2 separate regions of the Homo sapiens genome follow, and region 2 is linked to region 1. Evidence: fine-mapped expression QTL. A gene starts in region 1. The other region holds a variant in brackets. All regions are shown on one strand. Distances are between the middles of the regions.

Evidence for each region. PIP is the estimated chance that this variant, and not a neighbour inherited with it, causes the effect.
Region 2: its variant is fine-mapped to the expression of PLLP in whole blood (INTERVAL, PIP above 0.99).

The regions. Positions count from the first base shown.
Region 1 is chr16:57,282,122-57,287,581 of GRCh38, forward strand. It overlaps PLLP (plasmolipin), which reads right to left and starts at 2,551. Exons shown (of 4, transcript NM_015993.3): 1 at 2,285-2,551. The coding sequence starts at 2,419. RefSeq lists an enhancer at 1,629-2,290 and silencers at 2,335-2,744, 4,994-5,206.
Region 2 is chr16:57,134,532-57,139,531 of GRCh38, forward strand. CPNE2 (copine 2) reads left to right here. Exons shown (of 16, transcript NM_152727.6): 13 at 244-295; 14 at 2,618-2,751. Among named protein-coding and RNA genes, the nearest start is that of CPNE2, 44 kb to the left of the region's middle. RefSeq lists an enhancer at 702-751. The variant C/G (reference allele first, on the strand shown) is at 2,790.

The DNA of each region.
Region 1 (5,460 bases):
AAGCTACCAAGACCCTTGCGGCCCACAGCAGCAACATCCTCCTCTTACTCCAATGCCTTCCATTCCCCCTATTGCCCCTATTGCTAGTCTCTTTCTTTTTTCTTTTCTTTTTTTTTTTTTGTGTGTGTGTTTGTCTGTTTGAGACAAAGTCTCATTCTGTCACCCAGGCTGGAGTGCAGTGGTGCGATCAAAGTCACTGTAGCCTCAAACTCCCAGGCACAAGGGGTCCTCCTACCTCAGCCTCCCAAGTAGCTGAGACCACAGGCGCATACCACCATGCCTGGCTATTTTTTTTTTCCTTTTTTTTGTAGAGACAGGGTCTCAATATGTTGCCCAGGCTGGTCTTGAACTTCTGGCCACAAGCAATCCTCCTGTCCATCAGGGGCCAGCCTCAGGATCCACCTCACCAGGGATGCTGAGGGATCCCTCACAGGGATCTTGCCAGTCATCATCCTCCACCCAGCAAGATCCCTCTTCTGTTCCAAAACCTCTTAAGGCCACCAACAGAACCTAGACCCTGTAGCTCGCAGAAGTTACACAAGGCCCTTGGCTTCTGTCCACACCAGAAACAAGTGCTTCAACTCCAGCACCACCAACCTGTTGGCTACTCCCTGCAAATTAATTCAACTTTCTCATCACCACATCTTGGCTCACACTGTTCCCTGCCCTTGGAACACCCTTTCCCTGCGTCTGCCTCAGATTTCAGTGAAGTCTCTGCTCAAAAACCACCTCCTCCAACAAGCCTTCCTGGTCGTGAAATTGCTCTCCTTCTCCTCTGCCCTTTCGCACCACTTCTCACACCCACCTGGCTCTCCCCTGGGCAGCCAGGCAGCTGCTCATGGCTGTGCCCCTCACAACCAGCCCAGAGCAGAGCATTCTAGCGGTGGCGGGGTCAGTGGCTCTCCCCATCTGCAGAATTAAATGATTCCAGGAACTAGACCTCTTCCCTCAGAAGACAGAATCTTCTCCCCTTCTCCCCCACCCCCCAAAAGAGAAACAAACAAAAAACTCTGGGAGAACTGTTAAAAATGAATTTCTGGCTGTACTTCCTGAGATTCAAATTCCGATTGCACATTTTTTTCCGGGGGTGGAGTCCAATAATCTAAATTTTAAACAAACCCGCCAGGAGATTCAGAGGTTGGGGAGGGGGCCCACAGAGATCTGAGAAATCCTGAAATGAGATAGCACTGACCCAGGTAGAGGTGGGCCCGCACCTGGAGAGGTCAGGGAAGGGAGACTGGACCTCAGCCCAGGGTCTGGCACCAAAGCAACCACCCTGCCCTCTAGCTTGGGCCTCGCAGCAGCGCTAGCACCCAGCAATAGGAGACAATGGGAAATGTCCACTCGCTGGATTGCTAAGAAATACAGGTCCTGGCCCAACTCCAATTCCACCTGAGTCCTCTGAAAATGTATCAGGCCCTCACCCACCCAGGGCACCCACCCAGCTTCCAGACCCTCACGAAAGGGTGGCAGAGGAAGAAGCTAACATCCGGGCCTGTGGCTGGTGTGGGAGTGGAGGATGTTCCCATGGGTCCGCCTCAGTTGGGGTCTGTACAGGGGTCTGGGAGAGAGTAGGAGTCTTGCCCCTGGCTACCCACAAACCCCTCCCTCCAGCGATATCTCGGTCCCGTGGGGCTGGCTAAACCGGCTGAAACCTGGCGGGTCACCCAGAGAAAGCTAGAAGAGCCCGGCTCCCGCGCGGGCGCCCACAGGGTAGTGCCTGAGTGTGCGTGTTGGGGAGTCGGATGTGCCCTCTAGATTAGATGAGGAATGTTCATGGGTGCGGCCACCCGGAGCCGCTGGGAGCGGGACAGAAGGTGGTCAGAGAGTGGACTTTGCCTCAGACTGGGTTCCCTAGAGGGCTGGGGGCACTGTCCGGGCAGAAAGAGGGGTGAAAAAGAGAGAGGAGGGAAGGGAGGGCTGGGAAGGGTTGGCGGGTTGTGCGCAGTGACTGTGGCTCCGGTGGGGGCTTCTGTGGCCGCTGGTAACCACCTTGGAGGGGGCACGATGGGGCACGGGCAGTGGGCACTCTGTACACGGTGCAGGGTGCTCACGCTCGCAGCGACGGCCACGGGGTAGTGTCGTGGTGAGAGGGATGCAGGGCGATCTTGGGGGCGTCCGTGCGGGAAGCGCCCTAGGGGTACGCGCAGCGCGTCGGTGACAGTGTGAGCCCGGGTGGGGAGCGCAAGGTTCGCGAAAAATGAACGCAGCGCCGGAGTCCCTCACCCATCCTGGCCGGACCGGGAGCCCCCGGCCAACCCCGTGGGCCCGCGCGTGCTCTCACCAGCTGCAGCAGCATGAGCGCCCCGAGGCGGGAGCGCACGAAGCCCAGGTCCGGGCGCAGCGCCGACACCGAGGCTTCGGCGCCCTGCGCAGGACTGCTGGTCCGCGTGCTAACTTTCGACGGGAACTCGGCCATGGCGGCTCCGCTTGCCTCCCGAGGTCGCTACGGCCGCCGTCGCCGCCCCTCCAGCGGTGGGTGCCGGCTCCCGCGCCGCTTTTCCCCCAGGCTCCGGATCCCTGTGTGGCTCCAGGCGCTGCAGGAGGCGTCGGGGCTGGGAGCCTGGGGCGCCAGGTGCGGCCGAGATCCCGGCTCCGCCCCCGCCGCCGGGGCCGCCCCCTTAACCCTTTGCTCGCCGCCGCCGCCCCAGCCGCGACCGGTTCGTGGGCAGCCGCGTCCACTCCCCGGACCAGTAAACAACCCCGGGTCCGTGAATCGGCTCCGCCAGCACCAGCCTAGACCGCTTCGCCGGCCTCCCCCGGGGCAAGCCGCCCGCTGGGAATTTCCCGGCTCTCGCCCAGGCCGTGGTAGCTTCCGCGCCTAGGGATAAACTTGTGGTAGCTCGCGGGGGACACCGCTCTCCCAGGCGCTTTCTACGCGCTGTGCACCCTCGGCCTAGGCCCCGGCGCAGCGACTCTTGAAGAGTCCCGGGAGAAGGCTGGATGCGGTGGCTCCTGCCTCTGATCGCAGCACTTTGGGAGGCTAAGGTGAAAGGATAATTTCAGGCCAAGAGTTCGAGACCAGCCTGGGTAACACAGTGAGACGCCCCCCCTCCCCCCGTCTGTATTTTATAGAAAAGAAAGTAAAGAAGAATCCTGGGAGACCCAGCGCGGGGAAGGGGAGGGTCTGGGTAAGCGGTGGGTAAGCGGTAGAAGGGGGAGGTCCTTTTCTGCCTATTAATGCTGTTTTCACTTCTGAACATATTTTATATAACTTAGATGATCGCGGAGCCTCAGTTTCCTCGTCTGTCATATAGATACGAAGGAAACCTGCCTCACAGAGCGTTGTAGGGAATAAATGAAATATTCCCCAGAAAGCTCCTGACAGCGTGAGGGAGGAGGGGTCACTCAGAAGATGGGAGGTCATATACAGTTTCATTGCCACACATGCACCCTAAAATACTTACACACACACACACACCTCTTGAGCCTAGAGGTTTGCACAGATAGGTCATCATGCATTCATCAACCAATGTTTGCTGAACACCTACTACATGCCAGGCCCTGTGGATACAGCAGGAAACGAAGTAGACAAGGCCTTCTTGGCTCCCACATTTTTTTTTTCCCAAATACCCACTTAAAAAGAGAGCCACTTAAAAAATTGTTTTTAACTGACATGTAATATTAGGTTGGTGCAAAAGTTATACGGTTTTTGCATATAAAAGTATAGCAAAAACCGCAATTACTTTTTCGGCAACCTATAATTGTACCTAAATATGGGGTACCATGTGATGTTTTGGTACCTGTGTACGTTGTGTAAAAAAATCAAATCAAGGTACTTAGCATATCCATCACCTCATACATTTATGGCTTCTTTGGGGTGAGAACATTCAAAATCCCCACTTCTAGCTACCATATTTTGAAATATACAATATTAGGGCCAGGCGCTGTGGCTCACGCCTATAATCCCAGCACTTTGGGAGGCCAAGGCAGGCAGATCACCAGAGGTCATGAGTTTGAGACCAGCCTGGTCAACATGGCAAAACCCTGTCTCTACAAAAATACAAAAAAATTAGCCAGGCATGATGGTGGGTGCCTGTAGTCCCAGCTACACAGGAGGCTGAGACAGGAGAATCACTCGAACCCAGGGAGGCAGAGGTTGCAGTGAGCTGAAATCATGCCACTGCACTCCAGCCTGGGTGACAGAGCCAGACTCCATCTAAAAACAAAAACAAAAAAAGAAAAGAAATGTACAATATTGGTATTTTTTTCTTTTTACTTTTATTTATTTTGAGGCGAGGTCCCACTCTGTCACCCAGGCTGGAGGGCAGTGGCATGATCATAGCCTACTGCAGCCTCCAACCCCTAGGCTCAAGTGATCTTCTCACCTCAGCCTCCCTAGTAGCTAGGACTACAGGTGCACGCCACCATGCCCAACTAATTTTTTTTTTTTTTTGAGATGGAGTCTTGCTGGAATTACAGGCTCGAGCCACCATGCCCAGCTAATTTTTTGTATCTGTAATAGAGACTGGGTTTCACCATGTTGGCCAGGCTGGTCTTGTGATCCGCCCACCTTGGCCTCCCAAAGGGCTGGGATTACAGGCATCAGCCACTGGGCCCAGCCCTGACTAATTTTTTTAAATTTTTTTGTAGAGATGGGGTCTCTCCATGTTGCCCAGACTGGTTTCGCACTCCTGGCCTCAAGCGATCCACCCGCCTTGGCCTTTCAAAGTGCTGGAATTACAGGTGTGAGCCACCATGCCCAGCCCTAACTGTAACTTTGTACCTGTTAACCAACCTCTTTGTATCCTCCCACTACACCCCAGCCTCCTGTAACCACTATTCTACTCTACTATGAGATCAATTTATTTATTTATTTATTTGAGATGGCGTTTTGCTCTTGTTGCCCAGTCTGGAGTGCAATGGCGCGACCTCGGCTCACTGCAACCTCCGCCTCCCAGGTTCAAGCAATTCTCTTGCCTGAGTAGCTCGGATTACAGGCGCCCGCCAGCACGCTAAGCTAATTTTTTGTAATTTTAGTAGAGACAAGGTTTCACCATGTTGGCCAGGCTGGTATCAAACTCCTGAAATCAGGTGATCCACCTGTCTTGGCCTCCCAAAGTGCTGGGATTACAGGCGTGAGCCACTGCACCTGGCCGAGATCAACTTCTTTATTTCATTCCACATATGAGAGAGACCACGTGGTGTTTGTCTTTCTATGCCTGGCTTATTTCACTCACATGATGTCCTCCAGGTTCATCTGTGTTGCCACAAATGATAGGATTTCAGTCGTTGGATCCCACTGTCTGGTGGGGATGAGAAGTAATAAACCCGGGAGGAATAATACTTTCAGATAGTGACAAACGCTGTGACTAAAGTAAAATGGGGGAATGTGACACAGAGTCACCCACAGGTGATTTCTGGGTTAAGGTGGTCAAGGAAGACCTGTGGGAAGAGGTGACATTTATGCAGAGACCCAAATCATGAGTAGGGGCTAGCCTTGGGAATTCTGGGGGAAGA
Region 2 (5,000 bases), 150 kb before region 1:
GGTGACCTGCCAGGGTCTCAGTTTCCTCCACTATGAGGAGAGGGTGGTTGGGCCTCTCTGTGGGTCACACCCAGCAGTGGAGGTGAAAAGCAGATGTGGGGGGTATCAGTGGCCTAGAGGAGGGTAGGGGTGGGGGTTATGAGCCGGTGCTCTCAAAGGGAGCCTTGGCCTGGCAGTGGGTGGTGGCCTGGGTCTGGGTTTGGGGGCGGGAGGCTGCAGCTCAGCGTTTTCTCTGCGTTTCAGGTCTCCCATGAGTTTGCCATCAACTTCAACCCCACCAACCCCTTCTGCTCAGGTGAGTGTCAGACCCACCTGCAGCTGCCCTGTGTTTGCTACGGGCCTGGCCAGCTCCCTGGGTGGAGGGAGGGCAGAGGACAGGTTTTCATTTCTTTCTCCTTTCCCCTCCCCCTTACTGTTGCTCAGAGTGACAGAGGGGGAAGAGCTGCAGTTTGGAGTCAGATAGTCCTGGATTCAAGGCCAGCTGCTGCCCTTCCTAGCTGTGGGACCTTGGAAAGGTCACTGTACCTCCTGGGCCTTTGCCTCCTTACCTGCTCCAGGATAACTATGACAGCTGCTCTTCTCACTTTACTGGGTGGTTCAGTGAGAATTACAGGAAGCCACTGACAGGAAGTCCTGTGTAAACCAGGAGGAGGTGAGGGTGGCACCAGACACACCTGCTTTCACCTCCTTCCCACCCGCCCCCTTGCTGGGAAGGCCAGCCCTGCTCTGGGAGTACTTGGCGGGGGATCAGGGGGAGGCAGGGGCTGGGAAGTGAGTATGGTGTCTGTGTTCATCCCCACCCCTGGGCCTAAGAGGATTTCTGAGCCTCCTAGGGACAGTTAAGAAACTATTAGAGGCCGGATGCTGTGGCTCATGCCTGTAATCCCAGCACTTTGGGAAGCTGAGGCAAGAGGAGCACTTGAGCCTAGGAGTTCAAGACCAGCCTGGGCAATAGAGGGAGACCCCATTTCTACAAATTAAAAAAATTACCCAGGCATGGTGGCATATGCCTGTGGTCCCAGCTACTCAGGAAGCTGAGGTGGGAGGAAAGAAAGAGAGATGGGGAGGGGAAGGGAGGGTCACACCTTTAATCCCAGCACTTCGGAAGGCCAAGGTGGGTAGATCAGAGGTCAGGAGTTCAAGACCAGCCTGGCCAAGATTGTGAAACCCCGTCTGTACTAAAACTACAAAAATTAGCCAGGCGTGGTGGTGCGCACCTGTAATCCCAGCTACTCAGGAAGCTGAGGCGGGAGAATCGCTTGAACCCAGGTGGCAGAGGTTGCAGTGAGCTGAGATCATGTCACTGCACTCCAGCCTGGGTAACAGAGTGAGACTCTGTCTCAAAAAAAAAAAAAAAAAAGGAAGGAGAAAAGAGAAAGAAAGGAAAGAGAGAGACAGAGAGAAAGGAAAGGAAAGGAAGGGAAGGGGAAGGGGAAGGGAGAAGGAGGGAGGGAAGGAGGAAGGAAGGAAGGAAAGGAGGAAGGGAGGGAGGAGGGGAGGGAGGGAGGAAGAAAGGAAGAAAGAAAGAAAAAGGAAGATGAAAGAAGGAAGGGAGGGATGGAGGAAGGGAGGAAGAAAACTCTGAGTGGAGGAGAGGGGATGCAGGTGGGTATGGAAGAGGGCTGTTTCTATCATCATGAGACCTTTCCGCCTAGGACTTGGCTTCAACATAGCATCTACCTTCCCTGGGGATCCCCAAAGCTGGGCCAGGCTGTCTGATTTGGGGTAGATCTCCAGAGACATTTTGGTCAATCAGCTTCATCCCTGGCCAGGCCTTCTGGGCAGGGCTACAGGGCAGTGTGCTCATAACAGCAGCTATTTACAGAGCGCCTACTCTGTACAGGCACTGTGCGAACGCCTTGATCCCCCAACCACGAACAGAAGCCATAGCATGTCCAGAATGGACCTCCAGATGGCTTCCCATGGTCTCAAAGCATCACTGCAAGCTTCGCCAAGCCCCTTCTCTGGAAAGGCCTGAGAGACCCCCCTCCTGCCAACTGCCAGAGTGTAGATTATCAGTCCCATTGACAGACAAAGACGTAGCCTCAGAAAGATTAAACTACTTGCCCCAGGTCCCACAGCTAAGAAAGGCAGGATTTAGGCTGGACACGGTGACTCATGCCTGTAATCCCAGCACTTTGGGAGGCCAAAGTGGGCAGATAACCTGAGGTCAGGAGTTTGAGACCAGCCTGGGCAACATGGCGAAACCCTGCCTCTACTAAAAATACAAAAATTAGCCAGGTGTGGTGGCACATGCCTGTAGTCCCAGCTACTCGGGAGGCCGAGGCAGGAGAATTGCTTGAACCTGGGGGGTGGAGGTTGCACTGAGCCGAGATCCTGTCACTGCACTCCAGCCTGGGTGACAGAGCAAGACTCCTCTCAAAGAAAAGGCAGGATTCAAACTCTACAGGCCTGTCTGACTTCACATTCAGGGCTCTTGGCTTTTTACCATGCTGGCCCTTCCCTCTGGCAGCTTCCAGTCTGTCTCACAAGGCCTATGCTAGCCATGGCAGGGACATTTTGGGTAAGCATGAAATAGATGTTTCATCAGCAGTGAGATGAGAGTGGGTATGGGGTCAGGGAGACCTGGCTGATCCAGACTCTTCTCCCGAGGCAGGTGTGGATGGTATTGCCCAGGCGTACTCAGCTTGCCTGCCCCACATCCGCTTCTACGGTCCTACCAATTTCTCCCCCATCGTCAACCACGTGGCCCGGTTTGCGGCCCAGGCCACACAACAGCGGACGGCCACGGTGAGTAGGCAGCTGCAAGCCAGTCATGCCAGGAAACA[C/G]GCACGTCCTCTGGGCTGGGGGGCAGGATATTCTGCCTTCTCTTTGCTTTAAATCCTAGTGGACACCTCTGGGCCTTGCTTTACCTTCACGTATTGTAAAAGTTGAGTCAAGCTCAACTTGATTGGTCCTGGCTTCCTGGAGCACAGACTGGAGAAAGCAAATCCATTCGTGCTGAGCAGGAAGCAGGGCTGTGATCAACGGGAGATGTCTCCCCAGGGCGAGGTACTGGTTATTCCCACAAGAGTAACAAGATGGAAAACTGGAGGCAGTGATCCCTGAGGCCCTAACGCTGACCCTTCTGAGCCACCTAGTTCCAATCAGAGCTGCCCCTGCCTTACACTGAGGGCTGCTGAACTGTCTGGCCCTGGCCCTACACTCAGCAACAAGCCTAGAGCCTCACTGGCCCGGCTGAGGCTGCCAAAGTAGCTGCGTGGCATCTGGAATATATGGTAAGCAGCCATCCCAGGCATCTGCAACCGTGGTCTCCCTTCCCTTCTCCCGCCCCCAGCTGCAGGCTGGCTCCCAGGCAGGCCCTACTGGCAGGGTCTGATGCCAGTGGTGGGGTCACCAAAGGTCACCTTGCCCACCTCCCCATTTCCACCATGACCTGCCCTTGCCTCTCTCTGCAGTATGAGTTGAGAGGTCTTCTCCCCCTGCCCTAAGGGCAGTTATCTGATGTCCCTTCTGCCTTCTCCTGACCTTGGGGACCTGACTGACCTATGCCCTATGCATAGGACTTCTCAGCCCCTGACTCAGCCCTGCTCCTCACGCTCCAGCGCCGTGACGGGGAATCAGGCACCCAGCCCAGATGCTGGTCTGGGTTGAGGAGACTTGACTCCAATTCCTTTCTGGCCACTACCTCCTGGGAGACCTCGGCCAGCCCCCACCCCTTTCTCATCTTCCACCTCCATTGAAAGAAGAGGGTTGCTGAAGTCACTTCTAGAGTGTTCATTTCACTAGACTCTAAAATATCCCAAATTCACCCACTTCCCCATGGCCACAGGTCTCTCAGTGGACCCTGCAGCTGCCTTCACCACTCCTCACACCACCAGTCCACAAGCTACCATTTGTTTCCCCCACTGGAGGGTCAGATCCAGCCGCTGCCCTGCCAAAAACCCTTCGCCATCAGATTGGATCCCCTGAGGCCAGCCTCTGCCTTCCTTACCGACCCGATCACTGACTGCACAGCCCTTTCCTTCTCTTAGGATGATTCTGCCACCTAACCCCCCGTGTGTTCCTCGAGCACTCCTAGCTGTTCCCCCGCAGGTCCTTCCTGGACTCTGCAAGGCCCTCCCTCAGGGCCTCCTCCCCCAAGCAGCCTTCCCTGACCACTATATGAAGCAGATCTCTTGCCTTCTCTGCCTGTTCCTGGCTGACCCTGATGATGGTCGGCAATGTCTAGTTCACATCCTTCTCTCCGTGCCTGGTCCAGTGCCTGGGCTGTGCAGGCTCATCGTGCTCTGTGAATGGATGAAGTCAGCACTGGCTGAGGGATGTCAGTTGTACAAGCTCAGTCAGAGCCTCCTCCCCCAGGGAAAGGGACCTGGTCCCATGCCTAAGGGGACCATTGGGACCAGCCAAGGGAGGGAGGCACCTGGTCACCAGGGAGGTGGCAGTTGACTTCCGGGAGGTGGTGGGAAAGATAGTGCAACTGCCCAGTGGGTTCACCTTGCCTGCTGCCTAGAAAGAATGATTTATCAAGACAGGGGAACTGCAATGGAGAAAGAGTAATTCACAGAGAGCCGGTTGTGCAGGAAACCGGACTTTTATTATTTCTCAAATCAGTCTCCCCGAGCATTTGGGGATCAGAGTTTTTAAAGATAATTTGGCGAGTAGAAGCTTGGAAAGTGGGGAGTGCTGATTGGTCAGGCTGGAGATGGAATCATAGGGGGTCGAAGTGAGTTTTTCTTGCTGTCTGAAGTGAGTTTTTCTTGCTGTCTTCTGTTCCTGGGTGCAATGGCAGAACTGACTGAGCCAGATTACCAGTCTGGGTGGTGACAGCTGATCCATGGAGTGCAGGGTCTGCAAAATATCTCAAGCACTGATCTTAGGTTTCACAGTAGTGACATCCCCAATTTGGGGAGGTTCAGACTCTTGGAGCCAGAGGCTGCATGACTCCTAAACTGTAATTTCCAATCTGTAGCTGATTTGTTAGTCCTGCAAAGACATACTGGACCCCAGGCAAGAAGAGGGTCTTTTTGGGAATGGGC